Homo sapiens: one gene and its partners. The protein of the gene in region 4 interacts with the protein of the main gene of each other region in a biochemical or structural test. Each region holds a gene or a part of one and is shown on either strand. Other genes may lie near its edges.

Region 1 (3,500 bases), on a different chromosome or scaffold from region 4:
AGACGCCTGTACCATGTAAGCACCTCATAATACTATGTCAACTATCCTAAAGGTGAATAATAATACAAAGTTATTATAAGGTGATATAAGTAAAATATTTAGCTTAATAAATATGGGGAATATAGATATTTCTTAAAATCTTACCTCTCCCATTTCCTGTCTCAGTTGTTCAAATTCTTGTTTCTCCATTTCTAGCTTATGCTTCCGTTCCTCCTCTGTTCGTCGTTTTTCTTCTTCCATTTTTTGTTTTAATAATTCTTCAAAATTAATTTCCAGTTTTCCCGGTGTAAGAAATTCTTGAGAGATTGTCTTATACATCTCTGGGGAGTCATCATCTACTACCTATTTAAAATAATTATTTTATCACTCTGGCCAGAATTACACATACTAAAAAGGGACTATTTCTTGAAGAAACTGGGATTTCTTTTTTTTGTTTGTTTTTAGTTTTTGTTTTTGTTTTTTGAGATGGAGTTTCACTCTTATTGCCCAGGCTGGAGTGCAATGATGTGATCTCAGCTCACTACAACCTCTGCCTCCCAGATTCAAGCGATTCTCCTGCCTCAGCCTCCCAAGTAGCTGGGATTACAGGCATGCGCCACCACGCCCGGCTAATTTTGTATTTTTAGTAGAGACGGGGTTTCTCCATGTTGGTCAGGCTGGTCTCGAACTCCCGACAGGTGATCCGTCTGCCTTGGCCTCCCAAAGTGCTGGGATTACAGGCGTGAGCCACGCACCCGGCCAGATTTCTTAAATAGGTTTCACATTGAACAAAAAACAAGGGGACTTAACAGTAAACAAGGAAGTCTCAACACAGTGTTCAAAAATAAATAAATAAAAGGGAAGAATTATTAGAAAATGTAAGACCGAGGTATTTTGTGGTTATGAAGGAAATGGTAACCATCTATTCTCCATTACAGTGAAGACAAAGAAATAATTTATTCATACCATGAGTACTTTAAATTAGACATTAAGATTTCCTAATTTGAGAACATTTTTTAATTGGATTGAAACGACTCCCCAGGTTGGTAATTAAAGCATTTAAGTTAATCATGATTTTGTCTGAATGAATTAGATAACCCATCATGATCTCTTCATAATCAGGCAAAAATCATTCTTAGTGCTATGAGTTTATTGTTTATTTGCTGTCTGGCTAATTTTAAAGAAATAATAATAGTTAATACTTGGAGCTGCCAAGTGCAGTTATAAGCACGTAAAGTGTATTAATACATGTAAAATGTATTAATTTATTTAATCCTATGACCCTATGAAGTAGTTACTAATATCCTCATTTTACAGAGAAAGAAACTGAGGCACTGAAAAGTAATTGTCTAAAGTCAACACAAATACTATGTGGCAAAGCTGGGATTCAAACTTCAAAATATTTCTAATAAGATTATAGGCCGGGCACAGTGGCTCATGCCTGTAATCCCAGCACTTTGGGAGGCCAAGGCAGGTGGATCATGAGGTCAGGAGTTCGAGACCAGCCTGACTAACATGGTGAAACCCCGTCTCTACTAAAAATACAAAAATTAGCCAGGTGTGGTGGTGGGCGCCTGTAATCCCAGCTACTGGGGAGGCTGAGGCAGGAGAATCACGTGAACCCAGGAGGTGGAAGTTGCAGTGAGCCGAGATTGCACCATTGTACTCCAGCCTGGGTGACAGCGAGACTCCATCTCAAAAAAAACAAAAGATTATAGGCCGGGCGCGGTATAACATAACCCTCTGGCCTGAACTGTGACTCTGTGGTTGAAATACACACAGGGGAATGAGAGAGGCAAGGGGTATTATTCATTTGCTCCAAGTTTTATCAAGGTAATCCAGGCTTTACCACAGAACTATTTCAACTCAGAAACAATGTTTAAGTGGTTTACAATTCAAAGATTGCCTGAAATTTTTAAATTTTACATATGCATGAACTAAGCTATGGTATGAAATTACAATACTTATTCCTGGATAAATTACAATACTTATTTGTGGATAAGAAAACAATATAAATGTAAGAGGAAGGTTTTCTCTCTTCTCTTTAGAAATGTCTTTAGGAAACTTGGTTTTGTTTTAATGCAGTTTTCTCGCCTGCATTTTTTCCGCTAGTGAATCATGGTAAAAAGGCAGTATTGGCCTACAAATCTGCCCCAAGGACTAGGTCTAGTAATCTTCACAGTTACTTCTCTTCTACCGCTTCTTTTTTTTTTTTTTTTTTTTTTTTTTTTTGAGACGGAGTCTCACTCTGTCCCCCAGGCTGGAGTGCAGTGGCGAGATCTTGGCTCACTGCAAGCTCCGCCTCCCAGGTTCATGCGATTCTCCTGCCTCAGCCTCTGAGTAGCTGGGACTACAGGTGCCCGCCAACACGCCCGGCTAATTTTTTTTTTTTTTTTTTTTTTTTTTTTTTTTTGTATTTTTAGTAGAGACGGGGTTTCAACATGTTAGCCAGGATGGTCTCGATCTCCTGACCTCGTGATCCGCCCGCCTCGGCCTCCCAAAGTGCTGGGATTACAGGCGTGAGCCACCGCGCCCGGCTTCTTCTACCGCTTCTAAACCTGCTTATTCTCCAAAAATTAAGTGCATTCACAACGTCTGTAGGACTTCTATGTAGAAACCATTTATGAATCAGGGATTACCTACTGCACGTAAGATTTCAATATCACTTGTTCCATCAACATTTATTGGAGGTCTGCTACGCTAAGCATTGTGCCACATGTTTGATGAACAGTCTTGGCCTCATGGAGTGGAAAAGACAGCCATAAGTGGTAACAATACAGGATTAGCGCTATGATAGAAGAGTACTAAATGCTGTAAGAATTCATGGAAGGTGTTTATTATCAGGAAAGGCTTTCCAGAGGAAATGGAAAGTTATGAATTGGAGTTAGCAGAGCATAGGGAAAGGAGTGAGGGACATCTTTCAGACAGTGTGAAGGCTGAGTCTCACTTTGAAGAAATACAAACAAATTCAGCATATTTGGAACAAAGAGCAGATTCAGGAAGAATCAAGAAATGAAACGAGAGCAATATACAAGAGCAAGACTATAAAGAAATTTGTTTTAGAAGTTTTTGGATTTTTGCTTAAGAAAAGTGGGGAAATATTAAGCAAAACAGTAACAAAACACAATCAAAATTTCTTTCTTTTTAAAGATCACTCCTGGCCTTACAGGAAAGAATAGGTTACAGGTAAGAAAGCAAGTTAATGAGGAGTTGGCCCCAGGCAAGTTGTAACAGTAACTTGGATTATAGTAGTGGCGGTGAAAATGGGGGGAAAACTGACAGATTTCATAGTGATTTAGGAGGTAGAATAAACGAGACTTAGTGACTGGTTGGACATCAGGCATGAATAAGAAGATGGAAGTGTTTCAGGCTTCCACGTTTCTGATTTGAGTATCTGTGTGGGCAATAAAGCCAAATAAACACTTGGACATATGTGTGTGATGCTCACCCATACAGAGGAAGAAAACCAGGTTACGATATCACCAAAGCTAATTACAGTGTTTCAAGAAGGAGATGCAGTG
Region 2 (3,500 bases), on a different chromosome or scaffold from region 4:
TAGCCGTGTGTGGTGGTGCGTGCCTGTAGTCCCAGATACTCAGGAGGGTGAGGCAGGAGAATTGCTTGAATCCTGGAGGCAGAGGTTACGGTGAGCCAAGATCATACCACTGCACTCCAGCCTGGGTGACAGAGCAAGACTTCGTCAAAAAAAAAAAAAAAAAAGCCATGGAATTGGATGAGATGTAGGAGAGAAAGGAAATAGTTGGAGAAGAGGAGGTCAAGGACTGAGCCTTAGGACAAGCCAGCATTTAGTTGGGCAAAGGACAGTGAGAAGGAGGAAAACCAAGGGAGCGTCCCAGAAGTCAAATGAAGAAGGTGTTTGAAGAGGAAAGGAGGAATCAGCTGTGTCAACTGTTGCTGACAGGCCAAATGAGAGAACAGAGAGCTGCTCAGCAGGCTTGGCAATGTGAAGATCCGTGGTTTCAGTGGGGTGGAGAAAGCCAAACTGGAGTAGGCCCATGAGAGAAGGTGCAACAACTTCACATAACATTGTGTGAAAAGAGTCTGACCCAATAGCATCCATACTGCACAATTTCAGTTCTATCAAGTTTGAAAGCTGCAAAATTAAGCTGCATTGTTGAGAGATACACAGGTCATAAACTAAAGAGAAATGTAAGGAGTTGATTTCCTTAAAAGGATAAAGCTTGCATGTATAGAGGGAGAGGATTATGATCAAGAAGGATGAGTGGCGGCCGGTATGGTGGCTCATCCCTGTAATCCTAGCACTTTGGGAGGCTGAGGCAGGCGCATTACTTGAGGTCAGGAGTTTGAGACCAGCCTGGCCAACATGGCAAAACCCTATCTCTACTAAAAATACAAAAAGTTAGCCAGGTGTGGAGCCGCACGCCTGTGGTCTCAGCTACTCAGGAGGTTGAGGCACGAGAATCGCTTGAACCTGGGAGGATGAGGTTGTAGTGAGCCAACATCGCACCACTGCACTCCAGCCCGGGTGAGGGAGTGAGACTCTGTCTCAAAAACAAAAACAAAAAAAACAAGGACAGATGGAACATGTTGTCACACATTGGGTGGTATGGGGTTCATCAGGCTGCACATGTATGTTCTGTGCATTTTTTTGTATGTTGTAGTTTACAGTTACAAAGAAGATAGCAGGAAGAAATGGTGAAAAAAGTAGGTAAGTCTTTTAAGGAGTTTTCCTGCAAAGCGGACAGAGAACTAGGTCTGGTGGTGGTCGTCAAAGGAGAACTTTTTTCTCCCTCCTTCCCTCCCTTCCTCCTAGATACTTGCATGTGTTGTAAAGAGTGAGCACAGTGGTACATCTTTTCTTAGCCACAGTCAGCTGCCCAGGAGCAGTGCTGAATGGGCAGAGCTGGATTTTACAGGGTTGGGATTTTGCCAGGTGAGTAAGATAGAGGGGAGAAGTGGGACCAGGGAGTTCCAGGTCTGTGAACGGGCCTGGCTGAGGAGCTGGATCATGAAATCTGAGTCAAGTAAGAAGGAAATTGAGGACACGAGTTGGGTATTGCATAGTGTTACTGTGTTAAGGTCAGGGGTCAAAGACTTACTGGCATGGAGTAACCAGAGTAAGTGAGCTGGAAAGATGAGTTGTCAGGGCAGAGAGGGGTGCTTGGAATTGAGGCTTTGGAGCTGTGAAGTGACAAGATGCAGGTATTACCATGGGAGTGGGCAGCTGAGGTGGGGTAAAGGAGATGCTCTGTGGAAGGGAGATGAAGGCACTGAAGTCAGCCAGAAACACAAAAACTGGTGGTGGTGAGTGAGCAGAGTGGCAGTGAGCCCCAAGGCTTCCAGTTTTCTCCTTGGACAAGTCATCGTAATTATTATTATTATTTTTTGAGATGGAGTTTCCCTCTTATTGCCCAGGCTGGAGTGCAATGGTGCAATCTCAGCTCACTGCAACCTCCGCCTCCTGGGTTCAAGTGGTTCTCCTGCCTCAGCCTCCCAAGTAGCTGCAATTACAGGCGCCCACCACCACGCCCAGCTAATTTTTGTATTTTTAGTAGAGATGGGGTTTCACCATGTTGGCCAGGCTGGTCTTGAAGTCCTGACCTCAGGTGATCCACCCGCCTTGGCCTCCCAAAGTAATCACGCTGGGATTACAAGCGTGAGCCACTGTGCCAGGCCAAGTCATAGTAATTATGAGATGTGGATCACTGGTACTGGGTACTTACTGTACTGCAGGCACTGACCCACACAAGTTGTATTGGTTATCTCATTTAATCCTGACCACCCTGAGGTAGGGAGGTGTCCACACTGTAAAATGAAGAAACAGAGGCTCAGAAAGTTAGTTGCCCTGACATCACAAAGCTGGTAAGTGGAAGGGCCAGGATTTAACCCTGGCAGCCCAGAGCGTGATTTGTATTCTGCAATACCATTTCCTTAATTTCTGAGCCTTAGTTCCCCTTTTACCTATAGGTATAGCACCAAGTCCCATCACAGAGTAGAAACCTGTTAAACGTTAATTTTCCTTGCCTTCCTCAGGTTTCCCTAATGTGGGAAAGTCCTCGCTGATCAATGGGCTGGTGGGGCGGAAAGTCGTGAGTGTCTCCAGAACCCCGGGCCATACCCGATACTTTCAGACCTACTTTCTTACCCCCTCTGTGAAGCTCTGTGACTGCCCAGGCCTCATCTTCCCATCTCTTCTGCCTAGGCAGTTGCAGGTATGACGGGGAGGGTGGGTAAGGGAAAGAGAGAAGGTGGGACATTGAGGAAAGTACTGAGTGCTCATTTCCCTCAGGTTCTGGCAGGGATCTACCCTATCGCCCAGATCCAGGAGCCCTACACTGCTGTGGGCTACCTGGCCTCCCGAATTCCCGTGCAGGCCCTGCTCCACCTGCGCCACCCAGAGGCTGAGGACCCCTCAGCGGAACACCCCTGGTGTGCCTGGGACATCTGTGAAGGTGAGTTCCATGTGCCTGGCTTCGCCCCACCTGGTTTCAGCTGCTCTTCCTTACCTGCCTCGCCTTTTACCCTTCCCTGTCTCCTTTCCTCTCCTCAGAGATTCTGCCATTGATGAAGCTGCTGTCCACTCACCCCTAGATTTTTGTTGCATAGCCAGTAAGATCTCTGGCCTGGAATGTTTTGGGGAAAACTGGAAGGACTGTGTTATGGGAGTGGGAGTATAACTGGTACCTGGTTAATGCTTTCCCTTTCCATTATTCTTTTCTTCCTCCAGCCTGGGCAGAGAAACGTGGTTACAAGACAGCCAAGGCGGCTCGGAATGATGTGTACAGAGCAGCCAACAGTCTCTTGCGGCTGGCAGTGGACGGCCGCCTCAGCCTGTGTTTTCATCCCCCAGGCTACAGTGAACAGAAAGGTCAGAGCCCAGATATTCTTCCCCAGCCCCCTGCTATAGCGTAGGTAAAAGGGTGTGGGCTTTGTGGCCAGAGAGAGGGTCAAACCTGGATTCTGTACCTGTTGGCTAGCTCTGTTACTTAACATCTGTGATATTTTCCTGATCTGCAAACTGAGGGTAATAATTGACCCTTAGCATAGTGATTGTAAAGATTGAAGTTGATGTGC
Region 3 (3,500 bases), on a different chromosome or scaffold from region 4:
GTTGTATGTGGTATGATGTAGGGGTTCATCTGCATTCTTTTTTTTTTTGAGACGGAGTCTCGCTCTGTCGCCTAGGCTGGAGTGCAGTGGCGCAATCTCAGCTCACTGCAAGCTCCGCCTCCCGGGTTCATGCCATTCTCCTGCCTCAGCCTCCCGAGTAGCTGGGACCACAGGCACCTGCTACCACGCCTGGCTAGTTTTTTTGTATTTTTAGTAGAGACGGGGTTTCACCATGTTAGCCAGGATGGGTCTCGATCTCCTGACCTCGTTATCCGCCCGCCTCGGCCTCCTGAAGTGCTGGGATTATAGGCGTGAGCCACCGCACCCGGCCTGCATTCTTTTATATGTGGATATCTAGTTGTCCTAATACCATTTGTTGAAGAGAAGATTTCTTTCCCTATTGAAAGGTTCTGGCACCCTTGTCAGATCATTAGATGCTAGATATATGGATTTATTTCCGGACTTTAAGTTTTATTTCTTTGGTCTGTATGTCTGTGTCAGTGTTGCCACCACAGTTTGTTGTTGTTGTTGTTGTTGTTGTTGTTGTTTCTGGGTTTTTTTTTTTTGAGACGAAGTCTCACTCTGTCACCCAGGCTGGAGTACAGTGGTGTGATCTCTGCTCACTGCAACCTCCGTCTCCTGGGTTCAAGGGATTCTTCTGCCTCAGCCTCCGGAGTAGCTGGGATTTTAGGTGTGCGCCACCAGGCCCGGCTAATATTTGTGTTTCTAGTAGAGACAGGGTCTCACCATGTTGGCCAGGCTGGTCTCAAACTCTTGACTTCAAATGATCCACCTGCTTCAGCTTCCCAAAGTACTGGGATTATAGATGTGAGCCACTGCATCCAGCCGGCACCACAGTTTTGATTACTGTGGTGTGAATTTCCTTAGATGAAAAATTTCAAACACATACAAAAGTAGAATAGTCTAATGAACAAACATGTGTCCATCACCCAGGTTCAAATTCATTCATAAATCTCATTTCATATGTATTCTGCCCCCTCCTTTCTTTTCTCCATTATCTTGATACAACCTCAGACATTTGTAAATATTTCAAGAAATTATATAATGTATTATAAGAAACATTTATATCTTAAATATAAATTTTTAGAAGTGGTACATTTCATTCATTTGGAAAATTCACATACAATGGAATCGTTGTCTGTGTTGTCAGATAAATGAAATGTCATTGTACTTTTTCAGAGGCATTTAAACTAGCGTTTCAATTTATTGCTTCAGAAAATTCCATTTGGAAGTTTTATGATCAAAAGTACAGTAATTATTATAGTGTTAGACGTGTTTTTTATTAAACTGCTGTGTTGAAACTGGTTAGCCTTGCCTGTTGTATGAGAGTCGTGATTGCCACTCCAGAATAGGACTTTTTCCTTATTTATTAGTGCCTATTTGAAATGTCTAACATGCGACCGGGCATGGTGGTGGCTCGTGCCTGTAATTGCAGAACTTTGGGAGGCCATGGCGGGTGGATCAGTTGAGCGTAGGAGTTGGAGACCAGCCTGGCCAACATAGCAAAACCCCGTCTCTACTAAAAATACAAAAAATTAGCCAGGTGTGGTGGTGCATGCCTATAATCCCAGCTACTTGGGAGGCTGAGGCATAAGAATTGCTTGAACCCGGGAGGTGGAGGTTGCAGTGAGCCAGGATTGCACCACTGCGCTCCAGCCTGGGCAATGGAGTGAGACTGTCTCAAAAAAAAAAAAAAAAAAAAGGAATGTCTAACATGCCTTTCTGGTTGCCACTTGTAGAACATAGGTAGGTGGGCGGGGTGCGGTGGCTCATGTCTGTAATCCCAGCACTTTGGGAGGCTGAAGCAGAAGGATTGCTTGAGGCCAGGAGTTTAAGACCAGCCCGTGCAACGTGGGGAGACCCCATCTCTACCCCCTAAAAAAAATAGCTGAGTGTGGTGGTGTGTGCGTGTGGTCTCAGCTACTCAGGAGGCTGAGGTGGGAGGATTGCTGGAGCCTTGGGAGGTCAAGGCTGCAGTGAGCCATGTTTGTGCCACTGCACTTCAGCCTGGGTGACAGAGCTAGACCCTGTCTCAAAAAAAAAAAAAAAATGTGGTGAATTGGGAATACAAAAGGGAGTTTGCTGTTCTCAAAGGGAGTTACGTTTTAACATAGCAAATAGGCATATGCACAGATAATACAGAGTGAAGTGCTGAAGGGAGAAAATGGAGTATGAGAGTACCACCCTCGAGATTTCACATTTGCCTCTTAAAGTTATTGTTTATGCATCTTTAAAATCCTTTTCTAATTAAGTTTGCCATCAAGAGAGCGTGCAGATTGGAAGGAATGGGAGTATGCTGTGTGTTTCTGTGTCTCTAGAGTACCAAGGGTGACCATGAGGAATATTTGAGATCTTCAGTTGCTCCTGTATTGCCAATAATTTTGTACACAGGTGCAGCCAGACCATTCTAATGATGGTGTTCACCAAATTGGTTATTCAGAAATCTGGTCTTGAGAGTGGTTGTCTACATAAAACTTTTTGTTAAAATTTATTAGTAATTATTAGTTTGTTAATATTAATGATTTATTAATATTAGAGTGCCAGGCACTATACAAGTTAGGTGGGGAAAATCCTTTAACAGTGATTAAGGATCAGAGTTAACTTCTATGGAGTACAGAGACTGAGTTTGCTTTGAGCACTTACCATGTGATTAGTTATTTTAGAACATAAGTTGTATCTCTTTTTTTTTTTTTTTTTTTTTTTTTTTGAGAAGGTGTCTCAAGCAATCTCAGCTCACTGCAAGCTCCACCTCCCGGGTTGATGCCATTCTCCTGCCTCAGCCTCTCGAGTAGCTGGCACTACAGGCACCCGCCACCACGCCCAGATAATTTTTTGTATTTTTAGTAGAGACGGGGTTTCATCGCGTTAGCCAGGATGGTCTCAATCTCCTGACCTTGTGATCCACCCGCCTCGGCCTCCCAAAGTGCTGGGATTACAGGTGTGAGCCACTGCGCCTGGCCCATATAAGTTGTATCTTAAGGTGTTTATTGAGAATGTGGATCTGAATTTTTATCAATATTATATATATCTGCAGACATAATCCTAAATATAAACTTGTATCTCTGTAATTATGAAACCCAAAATATTCTTTTTTTATTATTATTTTATTTTATTGAGACAGAATCCCACCCTGTCGCCCAGGCTGGAGTGCAGTGGTCTGATCATAGCTCAGTGCAGCCTTGATCTCCTGGGCTTAAGTGACCCTCCCACCTCAGCCTCCTGAGTATCTGGGACTACAGACGCATGCCACCACACCCAGCTAATTTTTTTGATTTTTAGTAGAGATGAGGTCTTGGTTTATTGCCCAGGCTGGTTTTGAACTCCTGAACTCAAGTGATGTTCCTGCCTTGGCCTCCCAAAGTGTTGGGATTACAGGCATGAGCCACTGTGCCAGGCCCCCAAATAGTCTTATATCAAATAGTAACAAATATAAAATTTTGTAAAGTTCCAATCTGCAGTATTGATTTGAAAGATGATGC
Region 4 (3,500 bases):
GTTCATGGTGTCCTGCCTCTTGCCTTCTTCACCTGACAGTTGTCATGCTCCCCATTCCTCACTGGCCCAGCCCCTCTTCCCTACTCTTTCTAGCCCCTGCCTCATCTCCCTGGCTGCCATTGGGAGCCTGCCCCACTGGAAGCCAGGGTGGAGTCATTCAGGGTGTTTGCAGCTTGTCTCACATACAGTCAGTGCTTCAGTGAACATCCTTGTGCATGTTCCATCCCACATGTGACTATTTCTGTGTGATTGCCCAAGGAACACTTTAGGCCAAAATGCATACTCATGTAAGGAGGAGATAATGCTGTCGCTCCCCTGAGAGAGTGTGAGGGTGTCAAGGTATCATTTTCTCAGCCCTTGCAACGTGGTGTTGGTGTACATCTCTTTTGTTTTCAAATGGTGGCACCTGATTGGCATTTCAGTGCAGCCATGGAATATTTCATCACCTGTTATCAATGTGGCTGATGCCCTGTACATAGTAGAACCCTTGAATGGATTAGAATGGAAGCCATTTCTGTCCTTCATGCACCCTTCAGGGAAGCTCTCAAAGACAGCCTTGGGGCTGTGTCAAAGTGGCCCTTTGGTTTCACCAATGCCAGGTTTTCTTAGGATGTGTAGGGCATCGGCCAATGCTGGGTTTTCATAGTACGTGTGGAGCATTGGCCAATGCCGGGTTTTCCTAGGACGTGTAGGGCATCGGCCAATGCCAGGTTTTCATGGGATGTGTAGGGCATTGGGCAATGCTAGGTTTTCATGGGATGTGTAGGGCATTGGGCAATGCCAGGTTTTCATGGGATGTGTAGGGCATTGGGAGACAGGATGTGTGGCTTTCCACGCCAGCTATGTTGCATACTTGGCTGTGTGACCTTGGACAAGTCAGTGCCTCTCTCTGGGCCTCCACTTGCTTCTGGCTGTGTTGAAGGGGATGAGCTTCATGACCCCTCAGCTCTGAGTCTCAGCTGGTAGGGGCCATGATTATCTTGCTCAGCATTGTAGCTTCAGGGCCTGACCACAGTAAGCACTCAGTAAATGCTTTTTGAGTGAAAGAGGATAAAAGAGTCAGTTGGTTGGCTGGTTGGTTGGTTGGTTGGTTGGTTGGTTGGTTGGTTGGTTGGTTACATAATCCTTAGTTAGCCAATGAGGTAGAGATGACTGTTGGCCCCAGTAACAGAAGAAGCAGCCAGGGTTTGGAGGGAGGCTTAACTGACTTGTCCAGGGTCACACAGCTACTTAGTAGCATAGATTTGAAAGCACTTTTCTGTGGCTTAGAGCCCTGCTTCTGATGAACCACTGTGTTCTAGTCTATGACCCCCTTACCTGTGCTGTGGGCAGTCAAGCCTCCATTGTATTTTCAAGAGTCCTGGTTCAGAGCCCCTATGCTAACTCCTGAGCCCAGTGTGCATGGCCCAGGTGCTGGGCACAGACCGGTCGTCAGCCCCTGAGCTGTGCAGAGCCTGCTGGCCGCACTGCCCTTCTTCCAGCTGCTGATTCAGTTTCCAGTGGATCTGGGGTGCCCTCATGACCGCTCTGTGGTTCACTCCAGATGAGAAGGAACGTTTCTGTTCCTCAGGAGTGAGATTTCTGCCTGTATCCTGCAGCAGGGGTTCCTCCGTAGCTGTCAGCTACAAATATATTCCCCCCTGGCACCTCAGCATGGTTTTTGTGCTGTTCATGGATGAGTCTCGTGGGCAAGTGTGTACAGACCCATGAGTGTGCCCATGTGGCTCGAGACATCTAAGAAGGTCCAGCCAGATGTTCTCAGTTAATGATGCCTGCTTAGTGGTGAAAAGCAGTGGTGGGTTTGGTTTTCTGTTTTTAATCTGCATACGTGAAGCCTCTATTCCATGTGGTCCCTAGAGAACACTGGATCTAATGAACGGAACATCTATATTGTGGTGGGTGTGGTGTGCACCTTGCTGGTGGCCCTACTGATGGCGGCCCTCTACCTCGTCCGAATCAGACAGAAGAAAGGTGGGTGCATTCCCCTCTTCCTCCCTAAGGGTTTGTCCCTGGACTGTCCTCGGAGGGAGACGCCATTAGGTGCTTTGGGTTAAGGACATCAGCTTCTGCCAGTAGCAAGAAGTCCAGAGGTAGTGGTGCTAGGGCTGGGGCAGTGGCCTCACCATGTTAGAGTCTGGGTGGGTCACTCTGTGGCTTCCCCCTCATGGTTACAAGATGTTCATCACTGCCCCAGGCCCCGTGTCCTCAAGGGGCCACTACTGAGCAAGGGAGCTGCCAGCCTGGGAAGAGAGGAGGCAGGGACTCTTCTTACCTGTCTCAGGGAGGACATCGTCTTTCCCAGGAGCCTCCCGGCAGACTTCTGCTTTCCTGGTACAAGTCTAGGTTACATGACCAGTCCCTGGACAGGAGGCCAGAGGGAATGGAGATAATAGCGCCACCATTTGATTGGGAGGACTTAACAAGTGATTGCATGGGAAATGTTAGGGAAGTAACCTGGCACACAAGTGCTCAATGTATGTCAGCCCTGATTATTACCCGTATTGTATGTGAGCCCAGAAATATGAGCCACCTCCCTAGAAAGCCCCCTCACAGGGCAAGGTGCATAGCCTTTGACTGCACAGCAGGAGGGCACAGGGTCAAACCCAGGACACCGCTTCCCCTTGTTTGTGTGCACGTGTTACGTGTGTGTCTGTGTGTGTGTGCTGGTTGTTGGGAGGGTTGGTTGTTGCTGTGGCAGGGCCTCTGACTTTGAAGTCAGACAAACCAGGGTTCCAGACCCTGGTTATATACTGTAAACAATCAATTTGGCCTCTACAAGCCTCAGTTTCCCCATCTGTAAAATGGGTTTAGCAACGCCTGTCTTGGAGAAGTTACAAGATCCAAATAAGCCCATGTGAAATAACGGGTCTGACACATTCTAGGATCGCCATAAATACATGTTCTCTTTCCCACTCTTGGAGAAGACAATTTTAAGCTGGTATTTCTGCAACCTTTTTTTATTACAAGAGATAGAAATACATTTCACATCTCAACCCAACACATACACACACCCTTTGTATATAAAATTAAAACTGATATTTTCTTTTTTGTCATATTCTTTTTTCTGTTTAAAATGCTGGTTGTGACCCACCGCCTCCAAAGGGACAAGTGCTGTCCCGAGCTGCCTTTCTGTGGCCTGGCACAGCTGAGCTTGGTTGGGCACATTGTACACTAATCACGCATCCCTTCAGTAGCTCCTTCACCTCTGCCTCCCAAGTTTCCCTCCCTCCTGGGCTGGCTCTGAGATACTGGCCAAGCCTGATGCTTCTGTCTGGGAGGGTTGGAGTCAGGCCCTGCTTCTCCAGAATCTGCAAGACGTCCCACCAAGACGTCTACCCAATGGGTTCCCTAAAGTTCCTGGAGAGCCCCACACAGGGAGGACTCCTCCTTGGATGGGGAAGCAGGTCCCTTCCCCACCAAGGGTGACAGCCCATCCCATGGGATGAAGCATTCATAGCAGCCGATAGTGAAATCCTGGCCATCCTTTCTGAGTCTCAGGC

What was found. Proteins that work in one complex are often made in the same cells at the same time.
Region 1: the proteins of SIRPA (region 4) and NEXN form a complex in vitro, tested with the Homo sapiens proteins (one large-scale study listed by BioGRID).
Region 2: the proteins of SIRPA (region 4) and GNL1 form a complex in vitro, tested with the Homo sapiens proteins (one large-scale study listed by BioGRID).
Region 3: the proteins of SIRPA (region 4) and EIF5B form a complex in vitro, tested with the Homo sapiens proteins (one large-scale study listed by BioGRID).

Annotation. Positions count from the first base shown.
Region 1 is NC_000001.11:77,930,124-77,933,623, reverse strand, and holds part of NEXN (nexilin), read right to left. Parts: intron 343-3,500; coding exon 145-342; intron 1-144. UniProt on the Homo sapiens protein: Involved in regulating cell migration through association with the actin cytoskeleton. Has an essential role in the maintenance of Z line and sarcomere integrity.
Region 2 is NC_000006.12:30,546,490-30,549,989, reverse strand, and holds part of GNL1 (guanine nucleotide-binding protein-like 1), read left to right. Parts: intron 1-2,459; coding exon 2,460-2,638; intron 2,639-2,715; coding exon 2,716-2,878; intron 2,879-3,153; coding exon 3,154-3,294; intron 3,295-3,500. UniProt on the Homo sapiens protein: Possible regulatory or functional link with the histocompatibility cluster.
Region 3 is NC_000002.12:99,343,889-99,347,388, forward strand, and holds part of EIF5B (eukaryotic translation initiation factor 5B), read left to right. Parts: intron 1-3,500. UniProt on the Homo sapiens protein: Plays a role in translation initiation.
Region 4 is NC_000020.11:1,922,907-1,926,406, forward strand, and holds part of SIRPA (tyrosine-protein phosphatase non-receptor type substrate 1 isoform 1 precursor), read left to right. Parts: intron 1-1,857; coding exon 1,858-1,971; intron 1,972-3,500. UniProt on the Homo sapiens protein: Immunoglobulin-like cell surface receptor for CD47. Acts as docking protein and induces translocation of PTPN6, PTPN11 and other binding partners from the cytosol to the plasma membrane.